Regions from separate parts of the Homo sapiens genome. Here region 2 is linked to region 1. Evidence: fine-mapped expression QTL. A gene starts in region 1. The other region holds a variant in brackets. All regions are shown on one strand. Distances are between the middles of the regions. Region 1 holds the start of RAB27A (RAB27A, member RAS oncogene family). Region 2 overlaps DNAAF4 (dynein axonemal assembly factor 4).

The links. PIP is the estimated chance that this variant, and not a neighbour inherited with it, causes the effect.
Region 2: its variant is fine-mapped to the expression of RAB27A in whole blood (TOPMed, PIP 0.94).

Annotation. Positions count from the first base shown.
Region 1 is chr15:55,282,765-55,299,228 of GRCh38, forward strand. It overlaps RAB27A (RAB27A, member RAS oncogene family), which reads right to left and starts at 7,049. Exons shown (of 7, transcript NM_183235.3): 1 at 6,952-7,049. RefSeq lists a silencer at 6,737-7,266 and an enhancer at 7,367-7,516.
Region 2 is chr15:55,442,448-55,458,911 of GRCh38, forward strand. It overlaps DNAAF4 (dynein axonemal assembly factor 4), which reads right to left. Exons shown (of 10, transcript NM_130810.4): 6 at 7,775-7,920. It overlaps DNAAF4-CCPG1 (DNAAF4-CCPG1 readthrough (NMD candidate)), which reads right to left. Exons shown (of 16, transcript NR_037923.1): 5 at 7,775-7,920. It also overlaps the pseudogene LOC100420711. Among named protein-coding and RNA genes, the nearest start is that of PIERCE2, 42 kb to the left of the region's middle. The variant A/T (reference allele first, on the strand shown) is at 9,498.

The sequences.
Region 1 (16,464 bases):
TCCTCCTGCTGGTAGGCTGTTCCCAAAGGGTCCACTCCTCTCCTATGGCCAACCTGGCACCTCCACGAGAACCCCATTTCGCATGATCCCTGGGGGCAGTGGTTCTCAGTCTCAACTGCAACTGCCCATCAGAATCCCGTGTGGAGACAATAAATAAATAAATAAACAAACAAACAGCCTGAGCCCTACCCCACATTTACTGACTTAGAATTGGGGTGAGGGAGAGGTTAGAAAGACAACAGCGGTAGTTAGGCTTAGTTAGTTTTACATGATGGACAGAACGTGTAACTTGGGAAACTGTAAGCCAAAGAGGTTGAATGAGTTGTCTAATGCAGGGTTTCTTAGCGTCGGCACTGTTGACATTTTAGGCAGGATAATCCTTTGTTGGGGGCTCTCCTGTGTACTGAGAATGTTTTGCAGCATCCCTGGCCCCCACCCACTAAATGCCAGGAGTAACTCCCCAGCTGTGACAGTCAAAAATGTCTCCAGGCATTGCTAAATGTCCCATGTGGGGTGGGGCAGGGGAGAAAATCACCCCCAACTGACATACACTGGTGTGATATCACATAGTTAATAATCAGGAATATGGAGACTAAAAACCGACCGACTGATTCCTGACTGTGTTGATTCTTCCACATTCAAGCAGGAAGTCCGGAACACAGGAATGAGCCGCCACCTGAGGAAATACCACAACCCACTTCACTACACAACCCACTTCAATACACAGCCTAGGGCAGACGTGGGACCTGGGACAGCTGACCTTGTCCCTAATGAGAAAAGCCACATTAGGTCTCCAGTATTTGACTGTGAGGACAATGACTTATCTTTTCAAGGACTGTTACACCTCTTCACTCATTCTTGGAGTTGTTTCCTTGAAATGATGCGATTTATTATGAAAATCACTATTTTCATAATGATTTCTTAGCAAGAAACAAAGAAATCCTGACCACAATCATAGGTTATATTTTAAAATTCTTTAGTTTTGTAAATGAACATTTAAGTCATGACCTATTTCTGTATGTTTCATTTCTCCCCTTATTAGGGCTAGTACAGCAAGAACAAAAGTATCATATTATTGTGTTTAACTAGCTGATTTAGACCTTGACTTTGCTTTTAACGATACAAATACACAGCAGATTAGTATTTAGCCATACCCTGATAGGACTTGACCAGCCTCCCAGGTGGTGGGATCAGGCCAAGGTAGATAAACTATAGCAAATAAGAATGAACAGACTTTTCAGTCTCGTGGCAACCAATTTTATTATTATGCTTTGACCTGGCAGCTGGTAAGACTTTATATGAATTAACCAATGAAACTATGAAAAAACAAGATTAGTGGTTCTGAAATATGGTATTCAAATAGCAGTTAGAGAAAGCAGTTCATTTTCAAGGCTGCTTTCTTTTAAATAGGTACAAATAATTACAATAAAAAATAATAAAATCTTGTTTAAAAAGAACAGATCTCTAGTGAGCAAGTCACATACACCTGTCTATCTACCTTGGTCCTTGTCATATGTATATCTTCCATATTTATTGTACCAAAATAAAAAGGGGTGAGGAATTTTGTGGGAATAGGCCACTCAAAGCAAGCAGGCTTTCCATAAGACAACACTTAGTTGTTGTGGAATTATACTCAGTAAGACCACCTTAATCAAAGCACCTTATAATAAATACTCCAGAGGGTCAAAAGTGTTAACAAAACCATAAAAAAAAATAAAACCACATTGAATTACAGGCTTTCTGGCATAACAGCAGGGACAAGAACCACATGGGGCTTTCAACAGTTATGCGGCTCTCAGAGAAAAGTCAAAGTGTCTCATGAGAATGGCTTTGGCTGCCACATGTTGGATCTGGGGACTGAAGGACAGTATGATAATGAGGTGATCTTGAGTGGATGGCTAGAGATGTGATTAAAGGTCAACATGAAAACATAAGCAACTTCTTCATGACCTCTTAAGGGAAGGGATTATGCAGCAGAACAACTGCTGGTTCCAGAGTCCCACTTCCAGCTCTGCCACTAACTCTATGTGACTTTGACAAAGTGACTTAACCTCTCTGGAGTAAATTCCATTAACTATAAAAGACTAGAGTAAAATGAAATGTTCTCTAACTTCCTTCTAATTCTAATACTCCTTGGGTTTACAAATCTTCTCTTTTGGATACATGCACAATCACCAAAAATCAGCCATGGCTCAATCATTCTTTGGACATTTTCACCATCGATGCATTTCCTATGCATAAACATAAACTCCAGCTAGGGCTGCCAGACACAAAACAAGACATCCAGTTAAATGTGCATTTTGGATAAAGAACAATTTTTTAGTAAAAGTATGTCCCAAATAATGTATAAGATATAGGAAACAATTATTTAGTGTTTTTCTGCAATGCAAATTTAACTTTTTTTTAGTTTGCTAAATCTGGCACCCCACCTCCATCCCCACATTAGAATCAAAACTCTCACTCCACACACGGGAGGTTGGCTGACTAAAGCACTACATGGTAAACTTCTGTTTAAGGGCAACATATACAGACGAAAAACAAACAACCAAAAAAAAAAAAAAAACAGGAAAGGAGGAACAAAACTTTCAGCATTCCTCGTAAGAGAGGCATCTAATTTTACTTGACAATAAATAAAATATGAGTATTACTAGACCTCAATCATACAAGTACCTGCAAAACCAGAGAGTCCAAACAGAGCTGAATGCTCTCTACTCCACACACCTTACCCTACGAACATAAGTAAATTACAAACCCTTTATCTCTGCCTCCAGTTCAGGGCTCATGTCTGCACCTAGCTTAAGGGAAACCAAATCATAAACTCAAACTTCCTGACCAAGAGGCAGAAGAACAAATACAGTCCAAGAAAATCTGCAAGTGGCATAAAAAGTGAAGGCTATAGAAGGGAAAAATTACTCTCTTCAAGAACCAATCTTGTTTTAGCGATGGCAAGACAATTTCCCTTCTCAGGGGCCTGGCCAACATGGTGAAACCCCGTTTCTATTGAATAAATAAATAAGAAATGAATTTCCATTTTCTCAAATTTCCAAAAAACTTCACTCTTCTTAAATTAGCACAAGAGGCCAACACCCTGGAGATAGGCACTGAATGGCCCTGCCCAGTTTGCCCAGGATATAGACAGAGGGCTCCGGTCTGCCACTGTGGGAGGGACCAAAATCCTCACCTTTCTACTTATTTGACCTTTCCCTTTTTAAGGAAGATAAGACTATTATTTTTGGGAAAGTAGGACAGAAGACGAGAGACTTAGGAGATGTTGGTGTATCTATAGACATTGCTTCTCTTAGAAAAAAATGGATGGAATAGTGGGAAAGAAATAGCAGAACACTCTACAGACATACCATCCTGGATGTGCCCGATCTCCTCTGATCTTGGAAGCCAAGCAGGGTTGGGCCTGGTTAGTACTTGGATGGGAGAAATGGCAGAATGATCCCTATTGCTCTGTCTTCTGTTCCCTTTTTCATTAGTTCAACACATATCTCTTTGAGTGCTTAATATATGTCAGAAACCATTCTATGTGCTATGGACATCACAGTGAACAAGGCAGATTACTGGCCATCCTGGAGCTTGTCTTCTACCAGTGAAAGACAAATGTTGTGTGTGTGTGCTGGTCTGTGTATGACAGTTCTATAAATACTCGAAAGAAAACAAGGCAAGGTAAGGGGGCAGAAAATGATGGGATAGGTGAGGGATACTATTCTAGATGGAGTGGTCTAAGAAGGCCTCTCCAGAAAAATGACTTTTCACCTGAATGAAATAAATAAGAAAGCCATGCAGACATCTGAGGGGAAGAGCATTCCAGGCAGAGGAAACAAGTGCAAAGGTCCTGAGGTATGGCTGGAGCAGAGTCAGCAAAGGCAAGAGTGATAGCAGATGAAGCCGCACTCCATGCAAGGGTTGTATAGACCATGGTGAGGACTCTGTCACTTCTGAGATAAAAAGCCACTGGAGAGTTTCAAGCAGAGTGACATAATAGACTCTGGCTGCTGTGTTAAGAATAGAGTGTGGAGCAGTAAGGGTGGAAGCAGGGAAGCCCTTCAGAAGGCTTTTGCAGTAATCCAGGTGACAGAGATGATAGAACTTGGTGGAAGCAGCAGAAGTGGTGAGAAATGGTTATCATCCTAGATGTATTCTTTTTTTTTTTTTTTTTTTTTTTTTGAGACGGACTCACACTCTGTCGCCCAGGCTGGAGTGCAATGGCACGATCTTAGCTCACTGCAACCTCCGCCTCCTGGGTTCAAGCGATTCTCCTGCCTCAGCCTCCTGAGTAGCTGTGATTACAGGCACCCACCACCACGCCCCGCTAATTTTTGTATTTTTAGTAGATACAGGGCTTCACCATGTTGGCCAGCCTGGTCTTGAACTCCTGACCTCACGTGATCCACCTGTCTCGGCCTCCCAAAGTGCTGCGATTACAGGCGTGAGCCACCGCACCCGGCCTGCTGAGGAATTTAATGTGGGGTATAAGAGAAAGAATCAAGAGTGATTTCAGGGTGTTTGGTGTGAGCATCTGGAAGAGTGAAGTTGCCATTCACTAAGATGGAGAAGACTAGGGGAAAAGCAGCTTTGGGAGAGAAAACTCAAAAATCTGGCTCCTAGAGATTGTTGCTCACTTTAAAACCCTTACATCTATTTTAGAACCAAAACAATAGAAATTGAGAAGCTGACTTTAAATTTCATGTGGAAGGCCAGGCATGGTGGCTCATGCCTATGATCACAGCACTTTGGGAGGCTGAGGCAGACAGATCACCTGAGATCGGGAGTCCGAGACCAGCCTGACCAACATGGAGAAACCCTGTCTCTACTAAAAATATAAAATTAGCCAGGCATGGTGGCACATGCCCGTAATCCCAGCTACTCAGGAGGATGAGGCAGGAGAATCACTTGAACCAGGGAGGCGGAGGTTGCAGTGAGCTGAGATCGTGCCATTGCACTCCAGCCTGGTAAATAAGAGCAAAACTCCATCTCGAAAAAAAAAAAAAATTCATATGGAAATTCAAGGGACTGGATAGTCAAAACAATCTTGAAAAAGAACAAGGTTGGAGGACTCACATATCCTGATTTCAAAACACTATGTAGCTACAATAATCAAGGTAGTATGATACTAGCCTGAGGACAGACATACAGATCAATGGAATAGAACTGACAGTCCAGAAATAAACCTTTACATTCATGGTCAATTTATCTCAACAGAGGTGCCAAAACTATTCAAAGAGGAACAGTCTTTTAAACAAATGGTGCTGAAAGAACTGGATATCCACATGCAAAAAGTTGAAGTCAGACCCCCTGCCTCACACCATATTTAAAAATTAACTTAAAATGGGTCAAAGAATGAAATGTAAGAGCTAAAAACTATAAAACTTTTAGAAGAAAACATAAGTATAAATCTTCATGATCTTGAATTTGACAATGTTTTCTTAACTTTGACATCAAAAGCACAAACAACAAAAGGAAAAATAGGCTCGGTGCAGTGGCTCAAGCCTATAATCCCAGCACTTTGGGAGGCTGACGCAGGTTGATCACTTGAGGTCAGGAGTTCAAGACCAGCCTGGCCAACATAGCAAAACCCCGCCTCTACTAAAAATACAAAAATTAGCCAAGCATGGTAGCACACACCTGTAATTCCAGCTACTCTGGAGTCTGAAGCAAAAGAATCACTTCAACCCAGGAAGCGGAGGTTGCTGTGAGCCAAGATCATGCCACCGCATTCCTACCTGGGCGACAGAGTGAGACTCTGTCTCAAAAGAAAAAAAAGGAAAAATAGATTAAATATACTTCAACGAAATTAAAAATCAAGGCACGTCACAGAAATTAAGGAAGGAAGAAAAAAGGGAGGGAGGGAGGAAGAGAGAATGGTAGAAAGGAAGGAAGAAAAAAGTAGGAATGAAAACATAAAACAACATAAACCAACATAAAATACAGAAAATAATGATCCTCAGTCAAGTTCCTTCAGCATTATATTAACCTTTCTTCACTTCTAACCATCTGCAGAAACTGTTTTCCAGATTGTATTTTCCCTCTAAAGCAAGTTTTTAAGGCCGAAAAAAAAAAAAGAACAAGAACAGTGAGTGGAGAATCAACAAATTTAATTAGCAATGATTACAGAAAACTTAAATAGCACACACAACTCTATAATCCCTCTACCCCCAATTCCAACATCTGACTGATCAACCAACCATAAAATGTGAGAATCCATCCAGAAGGAAAGAACAGCTGTTAAGCTGTAGGGGTAAGGACCCTGTGGCAGAAGACCCTGAGGCCATGTGGGCCCAGGTGGCCAGCAGGAGCGGAAAGGCTGGGAAGGCTCCTCAGTCCAGGGCTCACAAGACTCCCTTCGCTTCAGGCCTGACTTTGCTGAACTGGTGATCTATTGGGACAGAGACAGGCTTTGGCAATAGTTACCAAAGCCTGTCATCATATCTGCACCACCACCAGTCCCGACCGGAGGGCCTGGCTGCCAGGTAGTTTTCAGTCTAACTGACAGGAGAAGAGAGAGCCCCTCCCTCGCAGCTAGTCTGCAGTCCAGACCCTCACCAACCGGAGGGCAACCAGGTTAAACAGTTAAACTGAAAGCAAAAGAGGGAGGAATGAACCGGGGGGCGTGCGGGAGGTCGGGGACTTTCCTCCTTTCCCTCCTGGAAAGTTTCCTACCCCTGATGGGCATCCTCCCACCTGGATGCAACCCGGAGGCGATCTGAGACCCTGGCCGGACCTGGGACCGCACCTGGCCAGCACCAGGCAGTTGTCATCACTGGGGTCTGCGCTGAGGGCCTGGGAGAGAAGCCACTCTTCAGGCGGGCTCGGGCGCCTGGAGGCGGGGAGGAAGGGCGGCGCACTCGGACCCCAGCCCTAGGACGGCCCCAGGGGGACGCCTCGCTCGGCCCTCCCGGAGGGACCGGACCCGCCGCGCGCCTCCCGCTCCTCAGGCCCCCTCACCTGGCTCGCCCCGCCGTCCTGTCCCCGCCTGGCTCGGGTCCTCGCGCGCCGCGTCCACCCGCCGCCGGCCTTTTTTGGGTCGTTGGCGGGTATTTTCCGCCTGGCCCCACATCACTTCCCGTAAAGGAGAGCGAGGTGGGGCGGGACCTTCTCTCCTCCACCTCCCGCCTTCTCCTGTCACCTCGGGAGCGGCCCCCGCCCGGCTGGCGGGGGGCGGGGTGCTGTCGCGCTCTCCCCGGCGGCCGCGCCTCCGAGGGGTCCTCTGTGAGCCCCGAAAAGGCCCCGCTCGCCTCCTTTGTCCCAACACTAGTTTCCGCTGCCCCATTCTGGAAGGCGCTACAAAATATAGGAGTGTTTTCGTTTTGGGACACAGGAGGGACATTTACAAACTGCACCAAGGACCGGTGCGCGGCGAGGTGTCGTTTGGGGACTCTCCCCTATTCACCTCCCCAAAAAGCCATGTTCTAAGGGTGTTTTCCACGGCATCAGTTCGCGGTCGCCACCGTAGCAGCCGGAGGTGCCGGGCGTACTCACGCCGGCCCCGCCCGAGGTTCCCGAGTCCGCGCGGCTCCTGAGGCGGCGTCCCAGGCCCGGCCCTGCCCCCGGCTTCCCGCCCCTGCGGCTCCTGGCTTAGGTCGGCCTGGACACGGCGTTTCCGGGGCAAGGGAATGCCCAGGATTCCTGGAAATAACATGGGAGAAAAATAAGTAAAAAATTTCGCAGGAAAAAAATCAATGTAATTCCGGGAGGAAATGGCAAACGGAGTCTCTGCTCACACTGTGTAATTCAAGAATATAAAACCACTGTAAATTTCTAAGAGTGTTAGAGCAATGAGTTTAAAAAGAAGAAAACTACAGTATGTTAAGGAACCGCCTCTGTCGGAAGAAACCTGCGCGCCTTTGCTGCCACCCAGCGGCTCTCTTCTCCCAGCGCCAACGGTGTCGCTCCGGCCTGCGGGGTAGTGAACCTGGGACTGCGTAGGGGGTCAGACCTCGTGGTTCCCACTCAGAGGCAGCCAAGTTCATCCCTCTCAGTGGCCAGGAGGTGTGAACAGCAGCCCTTGGGCCTGTCCCTATGGAGTCTAAGGCAAAGGCCCTTTGAACCAAATGTTTCCACTTCTAAGCAGAGTAAAATGTTGAGAAGCCTTAGTTCAGCTTCCCTTCTGCCTTCTAAGCCGTCTCGCTGACTTGTGTCTACCTCCACCGCAAATTCCAGCTGTCGCAGGCCCACCCGGTCAACTCCATCACCTTTCCAGTCTGTAGCTACTCACAGTTGGCATTACAGCAGTTAGCTTCTCAGGTGGGTCCAATTTACAAAATCACATATAGGATGAACCATATGAAATTACAAACAGTTGGCAATTTCATACATTTGATATAACATTTCCAGGCAAACATAACACAGTAAACTCGGGTTTAGAGATAACAAATGTCCTAACAGGTTGATAACTTCAAGAGCTCTTCCCGTGTGAGAGAAGGGCCATCAGACTGTTGGTGAGGTTAAGAGAGAAAAAGGCCGGGTTAGGTGGCTCACGCCTGTAATCCCAGCACTTTGGGAGCCCGAGGCCGGCAGATCACGAAGTCAGGAGATCGAGACCATCCTGGCTAACACGGTGAAACCCCGTCTCTACTAAAAATACAAAAAATTAGCAGGGCGTCGTGGCACGCGCCTGTAGTCTCAGCTACTTAGGAGGCTGAGGGCAGGAGAATCGCTTGAACCCGAGAGGTGGAGGTTGCAATGAGCCGAGATGGCGCCACTGCACTCCAGCCTGGGCGACCGAGCGAGACTCTGTTTCAAAAAAAAAAAAAAAAAAAAAAAAAAAAAAAAAGGGAAAAGGTAGCCTCATGTTCATGTCCAGAGGAATAGTCCTGGGAATCACTGATCAGCTAAAATCTGGGAAACCAATAATGTAGTAATTGCTAATGGCTGATATGGCACAGGGAAAGCCTGCCTTCAGCTTTCCCCACTCCTGTGGCCAGGCAAGGCTCTCACCAGGAGTATACCAGACAGGAGATCAGAAAACCTAGGATGGTGCTATGGCCCATTCATCACCCATTCATTCACTCATTCATCAAGTCAGGCACCCTATTAGTAAACAAGGTAAACTGGTCCCTGACGTCAGGACTTACTTGAGAGACCATCGAATAAGTAGGCAACTCCAGTAGTGAGATAAGAGCCTCAATAAAGGAAGTTAAAGAGTGTTATTGGAGCACAGATAAATGACACCAAATCAAGAGAAAGTTAAGGATAAACTTAGAATGAATGAGGGCAAGGGGCAAGGGAGAAGAGAATTCCAGGAAAATGGAGCAGAGGGAAGGCCTGGAAGCAAAAGATAGCATTCAACACTGGAGCAACAGGAAGAGGTTCAGAAAAGCTGAAAGACTGAAAGCAATCAGAAAAGAAAATGGAGAAATAACAGAGGCTGTGCGGTGAATAACCCTGCAATGATGATCATGATCATAACTAACATTTCTTGATCATTTACTATGAGTCAGCCAATATGCTAATAGTTTTGACTACATCACCTCATACGTGTCTTACAACTACTTTATGAAGTAGGTACTATTCTTACCTCTGTATTACAGATGAGGAAACTGAGTCCTAAAGCGATTAAGCAGTCTGACCAAGATCATGCAGCTAATAAGTGGCACAGCCAGGCCTAAAACTCAGAACTCAAGTTTTTAATGGTTCTAAGAATGGGTCTGAGAGGTCAATTAGCACGCTGTAATCCAAGTGAGGGATAATAGCGATCTGATTACGGCAGTGGCCATAAGGATGGAGATGAATGGACATATTTGACATATTTAGGAGAGTGAATCAAGAGGACTGGGATGTAGGGGTGTGAAAGAGAGGCAGTAGTCCATGGGGATGCCCAGTTTCTGGTTTGGGCAACAAGAAACCATTAAGCAACAGGAAGAAAACCTAGTTGCAACCAGGAGGAAGGGTGAAATAGGCCATAGTGATGAGTTTAGGACATTTCCATTTTGACACACTAGCACCAACAGAATATCCAAGTGAAGCTGTTTAGTATGTAGTCAAACAGGCCTATCTGAAGCACAGAAAACATGTGCTGTAGCTATTACCCAAAAGGTACTGGAAGGCATTAGAATCAATGAGCTAATCTAGAAAGTGAGCTGAGAGGGCAATAGGCTTGTTACAGAACCCAGATGAACACCCAGCATTTAAGGCATGAGCAATGGAAGTTCAAAAAGGAATCCAAAAAAAGAGTATCCAGAGAGGTAGGAAGAAAACAAGGAGAGTGTTATTACAGAAACTAAGTACACTGAACACATCTCGTGTGTCAGTTCAAAGTCATCTCTACGCCACTTCTTACTGCAGCCACAGAATCGATCACAGTATACCTCTTGCTTCCCACACTGGGGCTTTTCTGACACTGCTACTTGCAACATGGAGAGTTCTGCCTCCAGTTTTCCTAATAGAATTAAAGTGGATGGAATCAGTAAGAATTCATGGATTTTAATAAATAAATATAGATATATGTATGTGTATATGTATGTATTATCTAGCTCTGTCTGCTAAGAGGTCCTAGAAGCAATTATATCAAAGTAGCTACGAGTACACTTAGCACCTGGATGTTGATTTCTTAATATCCCTTTCCAACAAAAGGAACCAATTACATAATATTATATATGGAAAATCCTAAATAAAAAATCTATTAGTGCTAATAAATGAAATAAGCAAAGATGCAAGATACTAGATCAACACATAAAAATCAGTTGCATTTCAATGTATTAGAAATGAACAATTGAAAAGGAAACTTTAAAAGTTCCATTTACAATAATATCAAAAAGAATAAAATACCTAGGCATAAATTTAACCAAGAAGGTGCAGGATTTATACATTGAAAACCACAAACCACTACTGAAAAAAAAAGAAAATCTAAATAAATGAAAAGACATGGCCAGGCGCGGTGGCTCACGCTTGTAATCCCAGCACTTTGGGAGGCTGAGGCGGGTGGATTACCTGAGGTCAGGAGTTTGAGACCAGCCTGGCCAACTTGGCGAAACCCGTCTCTACTAAAAATACAAAATTTAGCCGGGCGTGGTGGTGGGTGCCTGTAATCCCAGCTACTCGGGTGGTTGAAGCGGGAGAATTGCTTGAACCCGGGAGGTGGAGGTTGCAGTAAGCCGAGATCGTGCAACTGCACTCCAGCTTGGGTGATGAGTGAAACTTCTCAGATAAAAAAAAAAGAAAAGAAAATACATTTAATGTTCATGGAATCAAACACATAATATTGTGAAGATGGCTATATTCCCCAGATAGAGCTACAGATTCAACAACATTTTTGAAGAAATGGAAAAGTGTATGCTAAAATGCATATGAAATTGCAAAGGACCCAAAAATTTAAAAAGTTCATGCTTCCTGATTTCAAAATGTACTACAAAGGTATAGTAATTAAAAAAAAAACCTATGGTATTGATATAAAGACATATAGATAAGTGGAATAGGCTTGAGAGTCTAGAAATAAAATTATGCATCTATAGTCAAGATCTTTCAATGGAGAAAGAAGTTTCCTCAGCAAATGGTACTGGGAGAACTGGATATCTACATGCAAAAGAATGAAACTGAGGCCTGGCGCGGTAGCTCACGCCTGTAATTTCAATACTTTGGGAGGCCAACATAGGTAGAGCCCTTGAGCTCAGGAATTCCAGACCCAACTGGGCAACATGGTGAAACCCTGTCTCTACTAAAAATAGAAAAATTAGCCAGACGTGGTGGCTTGCACCTGTAGTCCCAACTACTCGGGAAGCTGAGATGGGAGGATCGCTTGAGCCCAGGAAGCGGAGGTTGCAGTGAGCCAAGATCGTGCCACTACACACCAGCCTGGGCAACAGAACAAAACCCTGTCTCCGAAAAAAAAAAAAAAAAAAAAAAAAGGAAGAAGAATAAGGAATTGGACTCTTACCAATACCATATATAAAATTACATGATACACAAAAATTAACTCAAAATGAATCAAATAGCTGAATATAAGAACTAAAACTCTAAAACTTTTAGAGGAAAACATAGGCATCAATCTTTATGACCCTGGGTTTGGCAATGATATTTCTTAGATTTGACACCAAAAGCACAAGCAACAGAAGAAAAGAGTAGATTAATTAGACTTCACCAAATTTTTTGTAAATGGTGCATAAAAGCACACTATCAACAGAGTGAAAACACAACCTACAGAATGAGAGAAAATATTTGCAAATCATATATATCTGATAAAATTATAGTATCAGAATATATAAAGAGCTGTAACTACTCAACAACAAAAAGACATAATCCAATTAAAAAGTGGGCATATGAATACAATTGAATATACATTTCTCCAAAAAAGACATAAAAATGGCCAACTTCAAATGAAAAGATGTTTAATGTCATTAGTCATTAAGAAAATGTGAATCAAAATCACAATGAGCTGCCACTTCAAACTCACTAGGTTGGAAAGAAAGAAAAAGCAAGAGAAAGAGAAAGAAGGAAGGAGAAGGAAAGGGAGGGAGGAAAGAAGGGTGATTTGGCAAGGACATGGAGAAACTGGGAATGTAAAATAGTGCAATCACTTTGAAAAAGTTTGGTGAGTCTTCAAAAAGTTAAACAGATGACCTAGCAAGCCTATTCCTAGAACTATGCCTAAAAGAACTGAAAACAAGCATCCAAACAAATATTTAATACTTGTACATAAGTGTTCATAGCAGCATTATTTACAACAGCCCAGAACTGGAGACAAATGGCCACCAAGGAATGAATAAACAAAATGTGGCACATCCATATAATGGGATTTTATTCAGCCATAAAGAGGAATAAAGTATTGATACATGTTACAACGTGGATGAACTTCAAAAACATTACACTAAGTGAAAGAAGTCAAACACAGAAGGTCACATATTGTATAATTCCACTTATATGAAACATCCACAGCAGGTAAATCCATAGAGACAGAAAGCAGACTAGTGGTTTCCAGAGGCTAGGGAGAGGGAGAAATGAGGTGTTGACTGCTTATTGCACACGAGGTTTCCTTCTGAGGTGATGAAACTGTCTTGGAACTAGATAGAAGTGGTATTTGCACAACATTGTGAATGTACAAAATGTCACAGAATTGTACACTTTAAAATGGCCAAGACTAATTTTTTGTGATGCAGATTTTGCTTCAATTTTTTTTTTTTAAAAGAACCAATACTTTTTTTTTTTTTTTGAGATAGAGTTTCACTCTTTCACCCAGGCTAGAGTGCAGCGGTGTGACCTCGGCTCACTGCAACCTCCGCCTTCCGGTTTCAAGCGATACTCCTGCCTCAGCCTCTCGAGTAGCTGGGACCACAGGCACCCGCCACCATGCCCAGTTGTTTTTGTATTTTTAGTAGAGACGGGGTTCCACCATGTTGGCCAGGCTGGTCTCGAACTCCTGACCTTGGGATCCAACCACCTTGGCCTCCCAAAGTGCTGGGATTACAGGTGTGAGCCACCGTGCCCAGCCCCAGTACTTCTTGATTCAAAACTTGGTGTGGGGCCTGACGCGGTGGCTCACACCTGTAAGCCCAGCACTTTGGGAGGCCGAGGTGGGCAGTCTGGAGTTCCAGACCAGCCTGGCCAACAGGGTGAAAACCCGTCTCTACTAAAAATACAAAAATTAGCTGGGCGTGGTGGCACATGCCTGTGGTCCCAGCTACTCGGGAGGCTGAGGCATGAGAATCACTTGAACCCGGGAGGCAGAGGTTCCAGTGAGCCTAGATGCCTAGATCGTGCCACTGCACTCCAGCTTGGGCAATAGAGCAAGACTCCATCTCAAAAACAAAAAAACAAAGAAAAACAAAACTTGGTCTGGGAAGGAAAAAGATGAGCCAGAAAGTAAAAGAGTGCTCAGAAAATGACAGTGACATGCAAAGGACACAGGATCCATCCTGAGGGAGGACTATTCCTCAGTTAAAGACTTATTTATTTTTAATTAGACTATAATTTTGCTTTTTTTTTGGCACAATGGAGCATGCTGAGAGCCTGGAGCCTCTGATGACATGTGGGTCTGAGGCCTGCTGCTGCCTATTCCCTACCGCCGGTCCCATGGTCCCTGCCCAGCTTTGCATTCCCTGCCTTGCTTCAGAGCAGTGACTGGGTCACCTTGGCTAGGGGAGGCCCACGTTTTGTCATCACCTTCCACCCTGGCAGAAACCTAGGTATGGATAGGTGCAGGAGGGTTCAGGGTTGGGCCCATATCCCAGGGCACTGTCAACCTAAAAAAAAGACATCAGAAAAAAATATTTCATAATATAATTATTTTATCTGGGAGTAAGCAAAAAGGATTATAACCTGGGATGCACAGTTATAGCAAGCCACAAATGCATCCAGAGAGGGGAGGGTAAAGGGAAGCCTTTATCGGTACAACAGAGAAGTTCATGTAAGCTACTTAGAAACAGTTTATTGGTACCAGAGGCTCAAAGCCAGAGTTACTAGTAGATCACTGGTAGAGAAGCCATTATCAGGCAAGCCTTCTTTTGAGATCATCTTATCTGAATTGCTGCAGTCCTAAAAAATGTCTAGTAAGAAATTGTGTCAAAGAAATACGTGCATGTGTGTGAAACATGCAAGCCGTGCAAAGCATAAGATGCATGAAGGACATGAGAGAATTTCTTGTGGGTTATTGCCTGGAAACAGCTTTTAGCTGTAGACATGCAAGCATGAGCTCCTCTCCTTTGTGCTCTCCTAGCTCCAATTTGTCTGGGTCTGAGTAAAGTGGACTTTATCCTGTAACTGCAACTTTCATAGCACCATGGGGTGATCAAGAAGGCAGCTGTCCCCTCCCTAATCTGACAGTAGCACAGCACATTCTGCAGGCCATTCAGCTGGGGCCTCTTACCAGTGCCATCCAACAACTGAGAACAAACCAGCATGGAAGGTACAGTTCCCTGGGCATTGTCCATTTGCATTGACTGGAACAGCCAGTTTATGAGAAGAGGAAATTGGCTTCCTTGTCCCCACCCAGGGCCCTGCATTTTCATTTGTGCTGGGCCCCACAAATTACGCAGCCAGCCCTGATAGTAGTAATGGATTGTAACCCACAAAATAGGAATCCATGAATCATGCTAGTACATCATTTCTGTATATTTCTACCAAATTGAATCTATGAAATAATAAAAAACCATCAACAAACCCAATTTAATAGACATTCTACAACACAGCAGGCCAGCATTCTTAAAAAATCCCAGTTGTGGCCAGGCACAGTGGCTCATGCCTGTAATCCCAGCACTTTGGGAGGCCGAGGTGGGCATATCATGAGGTCAGGAGATCGAGACCGTCCTGGCTAACACAGTGAAACCCCGTCTCTACTAAAAAAAATACAAAAAATTAGCTGGGCATGGTGGCAGGCAACTGTAGTCACAGCTACTTGAGAGGCTGAGGCAGGAGAATGGTGTGAACCCGGGAGGCAGAGCTTGCTGTCAGCCAAGATTGCACCACTGCACTCCAGCCTGGATGACAGAGCAAGACTCCGTCTCAAAAAAAAAAAAAAAAAAAGTCAGTTGTGGGCCGTATTGGGGAACCTGCCCCGATAGTCACATAGGTTCTTTTCTACTTTCCCTAAGCATCGGCCAGCTTGAGAAATAAAGGGACAGAGTACAAAAGAGAGAAATTTTAAAGCTGGGCGACCGGGGGAGACATCACATGTCGGTAGGTTCCGTGATGCCCCACGAGCTGCAAAAACCACCAAGTTTTTATTAGGGATTTTCAAAAGGGGAGGGAGTGTGTGAATAGGTGTGGGTCACAGACATCAAGTACTTCACAAAGTAATAGAATATCACAAGGCAAGTGGAGGCAGGGCGAGATCACAGGACCACAGGACTGGGGTGAAATTAAATTTGCTAATGAAGTTTCAGGCACCAGTGTCACTGATAACATCTTATCAGGAGACAGGGTTTTGAGAGCAACCAGTCTGACCAAAATTATTAGGCGGGAGTTTCTTCTTCCTAATAAGCCTGGGAGCGCTATGGGAGACTGGGGTCTATTTCACCCCTACAGTCTACAGGCCATAAAAGATGGGCACACCCAGGGGGGCCGTCTATAGACCTATACCCCCAGGTGCGTATTCTCTTTCCCAGGGATGTTCCTTGCTGAGAAAAAGAATTCAGCAATATTTCTCCCATTTGCTTTTGAAAGAAGAGAAATATGGCTCTGTTCTGCCTGGCTCACCAGCAGTCAGAGTTTAAGGTTATCTCTCTTAATCCCTGAACAATTGCTGTTATCCTGTTCTTTTTTCAAGGTGCCCAGATTTCATATTGTTCAAACACACATGCTGTATAATTTGTGCAGTTAATGCAATTATTACAGGGTCCTGAGGTGACATACATCCTCCTCAGCTGACAGGATTAAGAGATTAAAGTAAAGACAGGCATAGAAAATCACAACGGTATTGATTGGGGAAGTGATAAGTGTCCATGAAATTGTCACAATTTATGTTTAGAGATTGCAGTAAAGACAGGCACAAGAAATTATAAAAGTATTAATTTGGGGAACTAATAAATG
Region 2 (16,464 bases), 160 kb after region 1:
GTTTCTGTGTTAAAAAGTTGGGAAGATGGAAACTGAATCCTCCTTGTATTCAGAAGGCTGTTTCGGAAGGTCACTCTTGGCAGGCTTCTCCCTACAGGGATTCAGCAGTGAGGGAGCAGAGTATTCGGGGGACAACTGCTTCTTCTGGAGGGGAGAGAATGAGATGGAGTTCACCAGCAGCTCTTTATGTCAGACTTTTAGCAGGATTCAGCTTTATAAGTAAGCTTGTCGCCTCTGAATATAGGGTCTTCTCATCAACACTCTGAACATTACTGGAAACAAAAAATTTCTTTCCTTCAACTTTATCAAGTTGGCTATTTATCCTAACAACAGAACAAAGAGGGATAGGTCTTTTACAACTGATGTTGAGATTGGCAGTCATGACGATTCCCCCAGCCATCATTGCACACATACCAACAGTAGCATCAATCATGGTTGCAATGGCACCTCCATGAATCAATCCAGGTGGTCCTTCTAGGTAAGGGACTCCTTGAAATAAGCAAACCATCCTTTTCTCAACGTCATTGTAGAACATCACGTATTCAAAGCCCAGGCCATCATCAAAGCTTCTGGTGAAGAGCTGGGCCTGTGACACTTGTTCTTCTTTCATAAGCTTTGGGTCAAGAAAATGGGTTTTAAAGTCTTGAATCCTTTCAGTAGGTGTACGTTTATATGAAGGCAAACGTTTCCAGGAGCCGTCTTCACATTTCTTCATAAACTGGTCAAAGAGCAGTCTTAGGTCCTTGTTCCAGCTGGGGTTGGGGACAGAATAGTCCTTAAGAATGACTTCCTCAGAAGAAAATGACCTCAGCGCGGGTTGCGGCTCACTACCCGGCAGGCGCCTGCCTACCGGTGGCGGCTGGCAAAGGGCCCCCAGCGTGCGGAGGCGCCTGGCGCAGCTCCTCAGCATGGCTCAGGGCCGTGCAGGCCGTGGGGCCGCACTTGCTCTAGCCCTGGATGGCACACATTACTGCCACATTTTCTTAATCCAGTCTATCATTGATGGACATTTGGGTTGGTTCCAAGTCTTTGCTATTGTGAATAGTGCTGCAATAAACATACATGTGCATGTGTCTTTATAGCAGCATGATTGATAATCTTTGGGTATATACCCAGTAATGGGATGGCTGGGTCAAATGGTATTTCTAGGTCTAGATCCTTGAGGAATCGCCACACTGTCTTCCACAATGGTTGAACTAGTTTACAGTCCCACCAACAGTGTAAAAGTATTCCTATTTCTCCACATCCTCTCCAGCACCTGTTGTTTCCTGACTTTTTAATGATCGCCATTCTAGCTGGTGTGAGATGGTATCTCATTGTGGTTTTGATTTGCATTTCTCTGATGGCCAGTGATGATGAGCATTTTTTCATGTATCTGTTGGCTGCATAAATGTCTTCTTTTGAGAAGTGTCTGTTCATATCCTTCACCCATGTTTCGATGGGGTTGTTTTTTTCTTGTAAGTTTGTTTGAGTTCTTTGTAGATTCTGGATATTAGCCCTTCGTCAGATGAGTAGATTGCAAAAATTTTCTCCCATTCTGTAGGTTGCCTGTTCACTCTGATGGTAGTTTCTTTTGCTGTGCAGAGGCTCTTTAGTTTAATTAGATCCCATTTGTCAATTTTGGCTTTTGTTGCCATTGCTTTTGGTGTTTTAGACATGAAGTCCTTGCCCATGCCTATGTCCTGAATGGTATTGTCTAGGTTTTCTTCTAGGGTTTTTATGGTTTTAGGTCTAACATTTAAGTCTTTCATCCATCTTGAATTAATTTTTGTATAAGGTGTAAGGAAGGGATCCAGTTTCAGCTTTCTACATATGGCTAGCCAGTTTTCCCAGTACCATTTATTAAATAGGGAATCCTTTCCCCATTTCTTGTTTTTGTCAGGTTTGTCAAAGATCAGATGGTTGTAGATGTGTGGTATTATTTCTGAGGGCTCTGTTCTGTTCCATTGGTCTATATCTCTGTTTCAGTATCAGTACCATGCTGTTTTGGTTACTGTAGCCTTGTAGTGTAGTTTGAAGTCAGGTGGCATGATGCCTCCAGCTTTGTTCTTTTGGCTTAGGATTGTCTTGGCAATGTGGGTTCTTTTTTGGTTCCATATGAACTTTAAAGTAGTTTGTTTTCCAATTCTTTGGGGAAAGTCACTGGTAGCTTGATGGGGATGGCATTGAATCTATAAATTACCTTGGGCAGCACGGCCATTTTTACGATATTGATTCTTTCTATCCATGAGCTTGGAATGTTCTTCCATTTGTTTGTGTCCTCTTTTATTTTGTTGAGCAGTGGTTTGTAGTTCTCCTTGAAGAGGTCCTTCACATACCTTGTAAGTTGGATTCCTACGTATTTTTTTCTCTTTGAAGCAATTGTGAATGGGAGTTCACTCATGATTCGGCTCTCTGTTTGTCTGTTATTGGTGTATAAGAATGCTTGTGATTTCTGCACATTGATTTTGTATCCTGAGACTTTGCTGAAGTTGCTTATCAGCTTAAGGAGATTTTGGGCTGAGACGATGGGGTTTTCTAAATATACAATCATGTCATCTGCAAACAGGGACAATTTGACTTCCTCTTTTCCTAATTGAATACCCTTTTTTTTTTTTTTTTTTTTTAGTATTTATTGATCATTCTTGGGTGTTTCTCAGAGAGGGGGATGTGGCAGGGTCATAGGATAATAGTGGAGAGAAGGACAGCAGATAAACACATGAACAAAGGTCTCTGGTTTTCCTAGGCAGAGGTCCCTGCAGCCTTCCACAGTGTTTGTGTCCCTGGGTACTTGAGATTAGGGAGTGGTGATGACTCTTAACGAGCATGCTGCCTTCAAGCGTCTGTTTAACAAAGCACATCTTGCACCGCCCTTAATCCATTTAACCCTGAGTTGACACAGCACATGTTTCAGAGTGCACGGGGTTGGGGGTAAGGTTATAGATTAACAGCATCCCATGCAGAAGAATTTTTCTTAGTACAGAACAAAATGGAGTCTCCTATGTCTACTTCTTTCTACACAGACACAGTAACAATCTGATCTCTCTTTCTTTTCCCCAAATTTCCCCATTTTCTTTTCCACAAAACCGCCATCGTCATCATGGCCCGTTCTCGATGGTCGCTGTCTCTTCGGAGCTGTTGGGTACACCTCCCAGATGGGGCGGCCAGGCAGAGGCGCTCCTCGCCTCCCAGATGGGGCGGCCAGGCAGAGGCACTCCTCACCTCCCAGACGGGGTGGCCAGGCAGAGGCGCTCCTCACCTCCCAAACGAAGGGCACCAGGCAGAGGCACTCCTCACCTCCCAGACGGGGCGGCCGGGAAGAGGCGCTCCCCACTTCCCAGACGGGGTGGCCGGGCAGAGGCGCTCCCCGCTTCCCAGATGGGGTGGCGGCCGGGCAGAGGCGCTCCTCACATCCCAGACGGGGCAGCCGGGCAGAGGCGCTCCTCACTTCCCAGATGCGGCAGCCAGGCAGAGGTGCTCCTCACCTCCCAGACGGGGCGGCCGAGCAGAGGCGCTCCTCACCTCCCAGACGGGGCGGCCGGGCAGAGGCGCTCCTCACATCCCAGACGGGGTGGCCGGGCAGAGGCGCTCCTCACCTCCCAGACGGGGTGGCCGGGCAGAGGCACTCCCCGCTTCCCAGATGGGGTGGCGGCCGGGCAGAGGCGCTCCTCACATCCCAGACAGGGCAGCCAGGCAGAGGCGCTCCTCACTTCCCAGATGCGGCAGCCGGGCAGAGGCGCTCCTCACCTCCCAGACGGGGTGGCCGGGCAGAGGCGCTCCCCACTTCCCAGAAGGGGTGGCAGCTGGGCAGAGGCGCTCCTCACCTCCTAGACGGGGCGGCCGGGCAGAGGCGCTCCTCACATCCCAGACGGGGGGGGGGGGCAGCTGGGCAGAGGCACTCCTCACTTCCCAGACGGGGTGGCCAGGCAGAGGCACTCCTCACATCCCAGATGATGGGCGGCCGGGCAGAGGCGCTCCTCACTTCCCAGACGGGGCGGCCGGGCAGAGGCGCTCCCCACTTCCCAGATGGGGTGGCGGTCGGGCAGAGGTGCTCCTCACATCCTAGACGGGGTGGCCAGGCAGAGGTGCTCCTCACTTCCCAGACCGGGTGGCCGGGCAGAGGCGCTCCTCACATCCCAGATGAAGGGCAGCCAGGCAGAGGCGCTCCTCACCTTCCAGACAGGGCGGCCGAGCAGAGGCGCACCCTGCTTCCCAGATGGGGTGGCGGCCGGGCAGAGGCGCTCCTCACATCCCAGACGGGGTGGCCGGGCAGAGGCGCTCCTCACTTCCTAGACGGGGCAGCCGGGCAGAGACACTCCTCACATCCCAGACAGGGTGGTGGCCAGGCAGAGGCGCTCCTCACATCCCAGATGGGGCGGCCGGGCAGAGGCGCTCCTCACATCCCTGATGGGGTGGCCGGGCAGAGGTGCTCCTCACATCCCAGACGGGCCGGCTGGGCAGAGGTGCTCCCCACTTCCCAGACGGGGTGGCGGCCAGGCAGAGGCGCTCCTCACATCCCAGATGATGGGCGGCCGGGCAGAGGCGCTCCCCACTTCCCAGACGGGGCAGCTGGGCAGAGGCGCTCTCCACTTCCCAGACGGGGCAGCCGGGCAGAGGCGCTCCTCACTTCCCAGATGGGGCAGCTGACGGGCAGAGGTGCTCCTCACTTCCCAGATGGGGCGGCTGCGCAGAGGCACTCCTCACTTCCCAGACGGGGTGGCCAGGCAGAGGCGCTCCTCACATCCCAGATGATGGGCGGCCGGGCAGAGGCGCTCCTCACTTCCCAGACGGGGCAGCCGGGCAGAGGCGCTCCCCACTTCCCAGATGGGGTGGCGGTCGGGCAGAGGTGCTCCTCACATCCCAGACTGGGCGGCTGGGCAGAGGCACTCCTCACATCCCAGACGATGGGCGGCCAGGCAGAAATGTTCCTCACTTCCTAGATGGGGTGGCGGCCAGGCAGAGGCTGTAATCTTAGCACTTTGGGAGGCCAAGGCAGGCGGCTGGGAGGTGGAGGTTGTAGCGAGCCGAGATCATGCCACTGCACTCCAGTCTGGGCAACATTGAGCATTGAGTGAGCAAGACTCCATCTGCAATCCCAGCACCTCGGGAGGCCGAGGCGGGCAGATCAGGAGCTGGAGGTCAGGAGCTGGAGACCAGCCGGGCCAACAGAGCAAAACCCCATCTCCACCAAAAATACAAAAACCAGTCAGGCATGGCGGTGCGTGCCTGCAATCCCAAGCAGTCGGCAGGCCGAGGCAGGAGAATGACAGGAGCCTGAGGCAGGGAGGTGGCAGCGAGCCGAGATCACGGCAGTACAGTCCAGCCTCAGCAACAGAGGGAGACCGTGGAAAGAGAGAGGGGAGAGGGGAGAGGGGAGAGGGCAGAGGGGAGAGGGGAGAGGGCAGAGGGGAGAGGGGAGAGGGCAGAGGGGAGAGGGGAGAGGGGAGAGGGGAGAGGGGAGCCCCTTTATTTCTTTCTCCTGCCTGACTGCCCTGGCCAGAACTTCCAACACTATGCTGTGTTGAATAGGAGTGGTGAGAGAGGGCATCCCTGTCTTGTGCCAGTTTTCAAAGAGAATGCTTCCAGTTTTTGCCCATTCAGTATGATATTGGCTGTGGGTTTGTCATAAATAGCTCTTATTATTTTGAGATACTTCCCATCAATATCTAGCTTACTGAGAGTTTTTAGCATGAAGTGCTGTTGAATTTTGTCAAAGGCCTTTTCTGCATCTGGTGAGATAATCATGCGGTTTTTATCTTTGGTTCTGTTTATATGCTGGATTACGTTTACTGATTTGCGTATGTTGAACCAGCCTTGCATCCCAGGGATGAAGCCCATTTGATCATGGTGGATAAGCTTTTTGATGTGCTGCTGCATTCGGTTTGCCAGCATTTTATTGAGGATTTTTGCATCGATGTTCATCCAGGATATTGATCTAAAATTCTTTTATATTTTCATTTTTCTGTACTGAAAAATATGCAGAAGGTCACTTGAGCCCAAGAGTTCAAGGCTACAGTGAGCCATGATTGTCCCACTGTACTCCAGCCTGGGCAGCAGAGCAAGACCCCCAACTCAAAAAAAAAAAAAAAAAGGGTGTGTGTGTGTGTGTGTGTGTGTGTGTGTGTGTGTGTGTATAAACACAATTCAAAAATAATTCTATGGGCCGGGCGCAGTGGCTCACACCTGTAATCCCAGCACTTTGGGAGGCCGAGGTGGGTGGATCACAAGTTCAGGAGATTGAGACCATCCTGGCTAATATGGTGAAACCCCATCTCTATTAAAAACTACACAAAATTAGCTGGGCGTGGCGGTGGGCACCTGTAGTCCCAGCTACTCGGGAGGCTGAGGCAAGAGAATGGCATGAACCCAGGAGGTGGAGCTTGCAGTGAGCGGAGACTGCGCCACTGCACTCCAGCCTAGGGGACAGAGCGAGACTCCATCCCACAAAATAATAATAATTATTATTATTATTATAACTGTATAATTATAGAAATGTTACAAATATAGAAAATACCTTGTTTAATAATATGAAATAATTATTTATATTGTCATTATGTCTTTTATTTTTTATTTTTTTTTTTGAGACAGAGTTTCACTCTTTCACCCAGGCTGGAGTGAAATGGTGCAATCTTGGCTCATTGCAACCTCTGACCCCCGGGTTCAAGTGATTCTCCTGCCTCAGCCTCCCGAGTAGCTGGGATTACAGGTGCCTGCCACCACACTGGACTAATTTTTGTATTTTTAATAGCGATGGGGTTTCACCATGTTGGCCAGGCTGGTCTCAAACTCCTGACCTCAGGTGATCCACCCACCTCGGCCTCCCAAAGTGCTAGAATTACAGGCGTGAGCCACCACGCCCGGCTTGTCATTATGTCTTAAGGATCTTCTTATTTCTACAATTTTTCAAATCAAAGATGCATCAATTCAGCCTCGCAGTAAAAAAATGCAGTTCTTGGCTGGGTACGGTGGCTCATGCCTATAATCCCAGCACATTGGGAGGCCGAGCAGGGTGGATCGCCTGAGGTCAGGAGTTTGAGACCAGCCTGACCAACATGGTGAAACCCCATCTCTACTAAAAATATAAAAAATTAGCCAGACATGCTGGCGCATGCCTGTAATCCCAGCTACTAGGGAGGCTGAGGCAGGAGAATTGTTTGAACCTGGGAGGAGGAGGTTGCAGTGAACTGAGATTGTGCCCACTGCACTCCAGCCTGGGCAACAAGAGCAAAAACTCCATCTCTAAAACAAACAACAACAACAAAAAGACCGCTTTTTTTTTTTTTTTTTTTTGATTCAAAGTCTCACTCTGTTGCCCAGGCTGGAGTACAATGGTGCAATCTCGGCTCACTGCAACCTCCACATCCCAAGTTCAAGCAATTCTCCTGCCCCAGCCCCGCTAGTAGCTGCGATCACAGGTGCTCGCCACCACGCCAGGCTAATTTTTGTATTTTTAGTACAGATGGAGTTTCCCCATGTTAGTCAGGTTGGTCTTGAACTCCTGACCTCAAGTGATCCACCCATCTCGGGCTCCCAAAGTGCTGGGATTGCAGGCATGAGCCACTGCGCCCGGCCTACTGTACATATATTAAGTCGGTATTCTCTTATCACTATTCTGGAGCCAAAAACATCTGCAAAATATATTTTCTCATAAGGAAATTCTAAAACATATTCATGACGTTATTTCTTTAGTGTAATAAATACTTAAGAAATTCAGAACCAGTACTAATTTCAATAGATGAAATAAAAATAAAGTATTTTCATTTGTGGTAATTGTAACTAGAGTAAGTATATATACCTCCTCCTCTTCTGCTACTTGTGATTCACGAAGAGCTGTTGGGAATACTCGAGGGGTAAAGTTGATTTTAATACTGCCAACAGAGCGAGGAGCAGGAATACTGTCTTCCTTTAACTTCTCAGTAAATATATTTTCTGAATTTCTCCCTTCAAAAACAATGGTAGCAAACAAGTCACTTATTTCTCATTTTCTAGTTAACAATCAACTGATAAAGTAATTACACATCAAAGCTCACCCCCAAATCCTAAACAAATAAATCAAATATATTTTCTGCAAGAAAAGAATGCAAAATTTAGCAATGATAATATAGCAGCTAATGACCTACCTGCTCTTTATCAATGGCCTCAGCTACTTTTCTGGGGTTCTCTTTGTAAAACCACAGTGTTTAATTCACATCAACTCTAAGGGAGGATACTCTAGGCAACTCTACATCAACTCTAGAGAAGGGCACATAGGCAAAACCACCACTGCCAATACCATCTCTATCTCCTTAAACTCTATAGCAGTATCTCCTACATACTTTATCTCCTATATGCTTTCTTATAATAGTGTAAGAGGTTTTAGCCATCAAAGAGAACTAATGAGAACTGGCAAGGACGGGCGCAGTGGCTCATGTCTGTAATCACAGCACTTTGGGAGGCCAAGGCGGGCCAATCACCTGAGGTCAGGAGTTCAAGACCAGCCTGGCCAACATGATGAAACCCTGTCTCTACTAAAAATATAAAAATTAGCCAGGCCTGTGGCACATACCTATAATCCCAGCTACTTGGGAGGCTAAGACAGGAGACTTGCTTGAACCTGGGAGGTGGAGGTTGCAGTTAGCCGAGATCGTGCCATACACTCCAGCCTGGGCAACAGAGTGAGACTCCGTCTCCAACAAACAAACAAACGAAAACTAGGAAAGGGTCTTGACTAGACATTTCAAAGGACTGGGGCAAGGGGGGAAGGAGCGCTCTTAGACTCAAAGATGAAAGCCAAATAATGTGATAACAGAGGTGATCCCATCAGCCAGGATGGCCTTGTAGAACACAGTCGTTGAGCACTGTTGCATAACAAAGTATTACATTAAAGAGAACTAAATTTTTATCTTTATTTGATCTGTACATTTGGGGCTTTATTTTACAATGCTCGGCTTGAACCTACCTAATACAAGATCCCAATAATTTTATATCCAAGTTAACTGTTGCTCACTCATAATGGCAAAAGACATTTCTAGGTATGTAAGAACTCAGCCAACACTACCTAGTCATCTTTTGTGAATACATTACTCAAATAAATGTTCCAGAACACAGAGAAATAACATTAAGAAACCAGGAGTGGGGAATTTGAGAGCAAAATGAAAAAGAATGGGTTTTCTAAAGCAGTGGAGAACACACTAAAAATTTTGTGAATAATATCTTTTTTTTTTTTTGAGACAGGGTTATTACCGTCACCGAGGCTGGAGTGCAGTGATGCAATCACAGCACACTGCAGCTTTGAACCCCTTGGCTCAAAAAATCCTCCCATCTCAGCCTTTCAAGAGCAGGCACTACAGGTGCCCACCACCATACATGGCTAATTTTTTGTTTGTATGCTTTTTTGTAGAGATGGGGTCTTGTTTTGTTGCCCAGGCTGCTCTTGAACTCCTGGGCTCAAGCAATCCTCCCATCTTGGCCTCTCAAAGTGCTGAGATTACAGGTGTAAGCCACCACACCCAGCCTGTAAATAATATTTTTAAATAGTA[A/T]TACAAAAGAAGGAAAATAGGTCTGGGCGCAGCGGCTCACACCTGTAATCCTAGCACTTCGGGATGCTGAGGCGGGTGGATCACTTGAGGTCAGGAGTTGGAGACCAGCTTGGCCAACATGGTGAAACCTCATCTCTACTAAAATTACAAAAAATTAGTCAGGGGTGGTGGCAGGCACCTGTAATCCCAGCTATTTGGGAAGCTGAGGCAGGAGAATCGCTTCAACCTGGGAGGCAGAGGCTGCAGTGAGCCAAGATCACGCCACTGCACTCCAGCCTGGACAACAGAGCATGTCTCACTAAAAAAAAAAAAAAAAAAAAAAAAAGGAAAAGGAAAAAAAGAAGGAAAATAGAATAGAAAGTAAAAATCAAGCATACTTCATTTTACTTCAGATTACTAATAATACTAATGATTAATACGATATAGAACATGCAGGAAATCATCACTATTATCCCATGAGGATAACTAAAAAAAACTATATTGCTACAGAAAAACAAATCTTTATGTGTTTATAAAAAATATTACAGTGACCACTAGTTACAGTAAAAATAAGATATATAATTTCCAAACTCATATATCTAATTTACAAACTCTTCTATTTTCCATTTGCAAATTGCAAAACATAAAAAAGAAATTTGCTGTTTGTAACAACACAGGTTAAAACTTTTACTACAAAGTTTTACATGCAATTTTATGAAAAGGTAAAATGTTATGAACACATACAAATTCTTGATAAAAAATAAATAAACAAAAGGTTCAATATATAGTTCAGTTTCAAAAGTAAGTAAAGGAAATGCTTCATCATCGAACTTAAAGCCAGGGTCATCTCAAAAGCTGACACAAAGCTGTTTGGAAAGATTTTAGATGCAAATAGATTAATATCAATGGCTGGAGACTGGAAATTTAATGCTGATATAGGTACAGAGGTGGGGAGGTGGAAATGAAACTAGAATCATAGAAGGGTAGGACCTCCCGGGTTCAAGCGATTCTCCTGCCTCAGCCTCCTGAGTAGCTGGAATTACAGACGTGCACCACCATGCCCAGCTAATTTTTTTGTATTTTTAGTAGACACGGGTTTCATCATGTTGGCCAGGCTGGTCTCGAACTCCTGATCTCGTGAGCCACCCACCTTGGCCTCCCAAAGTGCTGGGATTACAGGCATGAGCCACCGTGCCCAGTGGGCATCACTCTTAGTGAAAAGGATGCTTATACGATCTCTGCTCACTAATCTTAGAAAGTGAAGCTTGGAAAAAATGTCTCTTGTAAGAAATGGAAGCTCCAGGTATTCCTCATCAACAAGTCTTTTGCAAATAAGAATATATGATATTTCCTCATACATACACACTAAGAAGTTTTTGCAGAAGATTAGTGGTCAGGCAAAAAAGCACAATTCACAAGAGGAAACAATCCAGTATGAGGAACAATCAGCAGACACAACAAATAAGACGACTGGCTCCCCAAGACTTTGAAATAGCACAACAATCTGAAAGAGATTGATCATTTTAAACATACTTACTTAAAGCCAGTAAAGACAGGCTAACATCAATAATGAAAACTAAGAAGCTAGTGACAAAGAACAGAGAGGTGTGAAAAAAAAACAGTTCTTTTTTTTTTTTTTTTTTTTGAGACAGCATCTTGCTCTGTCGCCTAGGCTGGAGTGTAGTGGCGCGATCTCGGCTCACTGCAAGCTCTGCCTCCCGGGTTCACGCCATTCTCCTGCCTCAGCCTCCTGAGTAGCTGGGACTACAGGCACCCACCACCACGTCCAGCTAATTTTTTGTACTTTTAGTAGAGACGGGGTTTCACCGGGTTAGCCAGGATGGTCTCCATCTCCTGACCTCGTGATCCACCCACCTCGGCCCCCCAAAGTGCTGGGATTACAGGCATGAGCCACAGCGCCTGGCCAAAAAACAGAACTTTCAAAATGAAAAATATTGTCACTGAAATTAAAAACATCTTGGACAAGTATAACATAAAATTAGTCATGGTTGAAGAAAATTTATAAACTAGAAGATAGATCTGAGGATATTATACAGAAAATAGCTGAGGAAGATAAAGAGAATACAAGAAAGTTGGCCAGGTATGGTGGCTCACGCCTGTAATCCCAGGATTTTGGGAGGCCAAGACAGGTAGATCGCTTGAGGTCAGGAATTCAAGATCAGCGTGGCCAATATGGTGAAACCCCGTGTCTTCTAAAAATACAAAAATTAGCTTGGTGTGGTGGTGCACATCTGTAGTCCCAGCTACTAAGGAGGCTGAGGCAGGGGAATTGCTTGAACCCAGGAGGTGGAGGTTGCAGTGAGCTGAGATCGTGCCACTGCACTCCAGCATGGACAACAGAGCAAGACTCTGTCTCAAAAAAAAAGAAAAACATCTGTGTAATTTGAAAATATATATTGAAAACAAGAGAATACAATAATGTAATATTTGTTTGTTTTTGTTTTTGTTTTTGAGACAGAGTCTCACTCTGTTACCCAGGCTAGAGTGCAGTGGCACGATCTTGGCTCACTGCAGCCTCTGCCTCCCGGGTTCAAGCAATTCCCATGCCTCAGTATCCCAAGTAGCTGGGATTACAGCTATGTGCCACCACAGCCAGCTAATTTTTGTATTTTTAGTAGAGATGGGGTTTCACCATGTTAGCCAGGCAAGTCTCGAACTCCTGGTCTCAAGTAATTCGCCCAACTCAGCCTCCCAAAGTGCTGAGATTACAGGCATGAGCCAAGAAGGTAAATTACCAGCCAAGAAGGTAATATTTGAAGACAATAGTTTTGAAATTCCCAGAATTGATGAATGACAAAGTTCTCTGAGTGACAGTATGCTCCAAGTTATGATATTATGAGATAAATAAATATAAAATTGAACTTATACTAATGAACCCATAATATACCAAGGGAAAGAATTTTAAAACAACCAGAAACAAAGGATAGATTACTTTATTAAGCATCAAGCTAGATCCATTATACTTCATCCTGGGTGACAGGGTGAGATCCTGTCTCAAAAAAAAGAACAATATTAGAAATTAATAAATTATATAATTATAGATAAAGTACAGATAAGTAAATAAAAACTTTATGAAAATGAATTTGAATAGATAAAATGCACAATTTAGAAGACAAACTACCAAAATTGACTTTGGAAAATTTCAATAATCAATAACTATTATAGAAACTGAATCTTTTTTTTTTTTTAAAAAAACCTCCATAAAAAAACTCCAGACCTAGACAGTTTTAGGGGAAGTTTTACTAAGCCTTAAAACAACAGGTATTTCTCTTATCTAACTATATTGTTTCAAATAGTAGAAAAAGAAAAACGCTCTATAGTATATAGGTCTGGTACAATTTGGTATACAATCTAGACAAGAACAGTATGAGGAAAGAAAAATATAACTGAACCTCAATATGAAGATAAATGTGACAACTGCTTATAAAATATTAGCAAATTGAATATATATATATATATATATATATATTCAATCTAAATGACTTTTTTTTGTTTTTGTTGTTTTGAGACAGGGTCTCACTCTGTCACCCACACTGGAATGCAGTGGCGCGATCTTGGCTCACTGCAGCCTCTTCCTCCTGGGTTCAAGTGATTCTCCTGCCTCAGCCTCCTGAGTAACTGGGACTACAGGCGCATGCCACCACACCTGGCTAATTTTTGCATTTTTAGTAGAGACAGGGTTTCGCCATGTTGCCCAGGGTGGTCTGGAACTCCTAACCTCAGGTGATCTGCCCACCTCGGCCTCCCAAAGTACTGGGATTATAGGCGTTAGCCACCATGCCCAGGCTCTAAATGACTTTTCAATATGCCAAGCCTCACTGTTAAAGTTGTAAAGACATATGACCTGGTGGAAATAGCACAGGTTTCAGATGCAGACCAGATCTGGGTTCAAATCCCACAAGTTTACTTATTCATAGTTATTTTTTTTTTCTGAACATCTATTTCCTCTAAAATAAGAATAGCAGCACTTAGACTGAAGTGTTGTGAAGACTGAGTGACCCAAGCAATAAAATCCCCTGGCACATAGTAGTCACCTAATAAATGTTAATTATTATTATTATATATGTGATTTTACACTAAAATGTTAAATTTATAGGAATTCAATAATGACTTATGTAAGGAAAATACTAAATATTTCTTTTTTTTTTTTTTGAGATGGAGTTTCACTCTTGTTGCCCAGGCTGGAGTGCAATGGCAAGATCTCGCTTCACTGCAACCTCCACCTCCCTGGGTTCAAGCGATTCTCCTGCCTCAGTGCCTCCCGAGTAGCTGGGATTACAGGCACCCACCACCACGTCCGGCTAGTTTTGTATTTTTAGTAGAGACAGGGTTTCTCCATGTTGGTCAGGCTAGTCTTGAACACCCGACTTCAGGTGATCTGCCCGCCTCAGCCTCTCAAAGTTCTGGGATTACAGGCGTGAGCCACTGCATCCGGCGGAAAATGCATCCAAAACAAAGTTTAATATTCTAAAATTAGATAAAACCAAACTCGTAGCTTTCAGTATAGAATTATATTCATTGGGAGATAGGAGGGAAAATGGCAGATCGGAGACAGGATTAACATGCAGCTGCCACCTGGATGGACAGAACAGCATCTGGAGACTCACAATGCGAACTTTTACTCCAAGAATCACTTCAGGAACACCGCAAGAAACACTGTAGGAAAACTGAAAGAATTCACAGACCCTTTGAAAGAAGTGGTTCGCTGCTGCAAATGCCATGAAACAGCTGAAAAACCGTGAGTTCCCAAAGTGTGAGGGAAGAAAAGGTCAGTCTCTGAACATACATCCCCACTGGGGAACCTGAAAATCCAGATCACAGGGGAAGGATTTAACTTTACCCTGAGCTGAAATAGATTTAGGTAGCTGAGCAAAATATGAAAGTAGAAGAAGCAGCAGGAAGAGCCCTATAGGTACTTCCATCCCCAGCTGGAGTCCAAGGAAGCCATTCCTGGCGTGATCTCACAGAGGTCCTTGGAGACGGGAAGGCAGCCAGTGGAATTGGGGCAGGACCACAGGGTGAAGGAAGCTTGTAGCTGAACTTTGTAATAATTTTGACTGAGCAGGAATTTTCCTAAGCAGAAATTGGTGGCAGAGGGGGCAAATGGGAAGTACAGATGCGAGTGCAGAAGCCACAGCCAATAGTGTGGGCAGGCAGGGACTGGTGAGGCCTAACAGCCCTCTTGCTTTCTCAGTGGCAAGGCTTATAGTCTGGGGCAAGATCTCAGCCCTGCTCACCAACTGCCTGGATATAAACGCAGTGCGGTTGGGGTGGCATGGCCAGAGTGAGACTGGCCTTGGTGGCTGCCTGGGAGCTAGGTGAGGCCTGTCACTGCCAGCTTTCCCCCACCTCCCTGGTGACCTGTATAGCACAGCAGAGGCAGCCATAATGCCCCTGGGAACATAATTCCATTGGCCTGAGAATCCCCTCCACCCCCACTGTGGCCACAGCAAGCCCCACCCAAGGGGAGCCTGAGCCCAGACCCAACTAACCTTGCCCCCACCTGATGGGGCAAGGTTTTCTCTACCTGCTCTATGGCCCTGCCCATCACCTGAGAAACCCGAGTACTTGTCCCGGCCAACATCAAGATTATATCTCTCTTCTATACTGCAGCTGGTGCCCTCTTGAAAGTGCCACCTCCTGGCTGGAGCCCAACGAACTCAAGCCACCATAGCAACTCATAACAGAACAACCCTGCTCCAAAGAAGGAGAAAACAACAGCTAATTCCACTTCCTGCAACACCCTGTCTAGCCAGAGGTCCTGAATCTGTCCACGTGACAACTTCACTGCTTACATAACCAGTACTTGAAGTGCACTAAACAAAATTACAACAAAAGACTCCAACAGAATCCACTTCACTCACCTGCCACCACCAGAACAGGTGCTGGTATCCACGGCTGGGAGACCTGTGGATCACATCACAGGGCTCTTTGCAGACATTCCCCAGCACCAGCCTGGGGCCCAACTGGGTGGCTAGAAATAGAAGGGCAATAACAATCACTGCAGTCTGGCTCTCAGGAAGCCCCATCCCTAGTGGCAGGGGGAGGGCACCACATCAAGGGAACACCCATGGGACAGAAGAATCTGAACAGTAGCCCTTGAGTTCCAGATCTTACCACTGAAACAGTCTACTCAAATGAGAAGGAACCAGAAAAGTAATTCTAGTAATATGACAATACAAGGTTCTGTAACACCCCCAAAAGATCATACTAGCTCTCCAGCAATGGATCCAAACTAAGAAGAAATCTGTGAATTGCCAGATAAATAATTCAGAAGGTTGATTATTAAGCTCCTCAAGAAGGCACTAGAGGAAGGTGAAAATCAACTTAAAGAAATTTTTAAAAAAAGGAGGATATGAATGGAAAAGTCTCCAGAGAAATAGATATTATAAAGAAAAAATAATCAAAACTTCTGGAAATGAAAGACACACTTAAAGAAATGCAAAATACACTGGAAAGTTTCAACAATAGATTTGAACAAGTAGAAGAAATAACTTCAGAGATCAAAGACAAGGCTTTCAAACGAACCCAATCCAACAAAGACAAAGAAAAAAAGAATTTTAAAAAATGAACAAAGCCTCCAAGAAATCTGAGATTATGTAAACAAGCAAACATAAGAATAATTGGTGCTCCTGAGGAAGAAGGGAAATCTAAAAGTTTGGAAAACATACTTGAGGGAATAATCAAGAAAAACTTCCATGGTCTTGCTAGAGATCTAGACATCCAAATACAAGAAGCTCAAAGAACACCCGGGGAATTCATTGCAAAAAGATCATTGCCTAGGCACATAGTCATCACATTGTCTAAAGTAAAGATGAAAGAAAGAATCTTAAGAGCTGTGAGGCAAGGTCAGGCACAGTGGCCCACATCTGTAATCTCAGCACTTTGGGAGGCCAAGGCGGGTGGATCACGAGGTCAGGAGTTCGAGACCAGCCTGGCCAACCAAGATGGTGAAACACCATCTCTA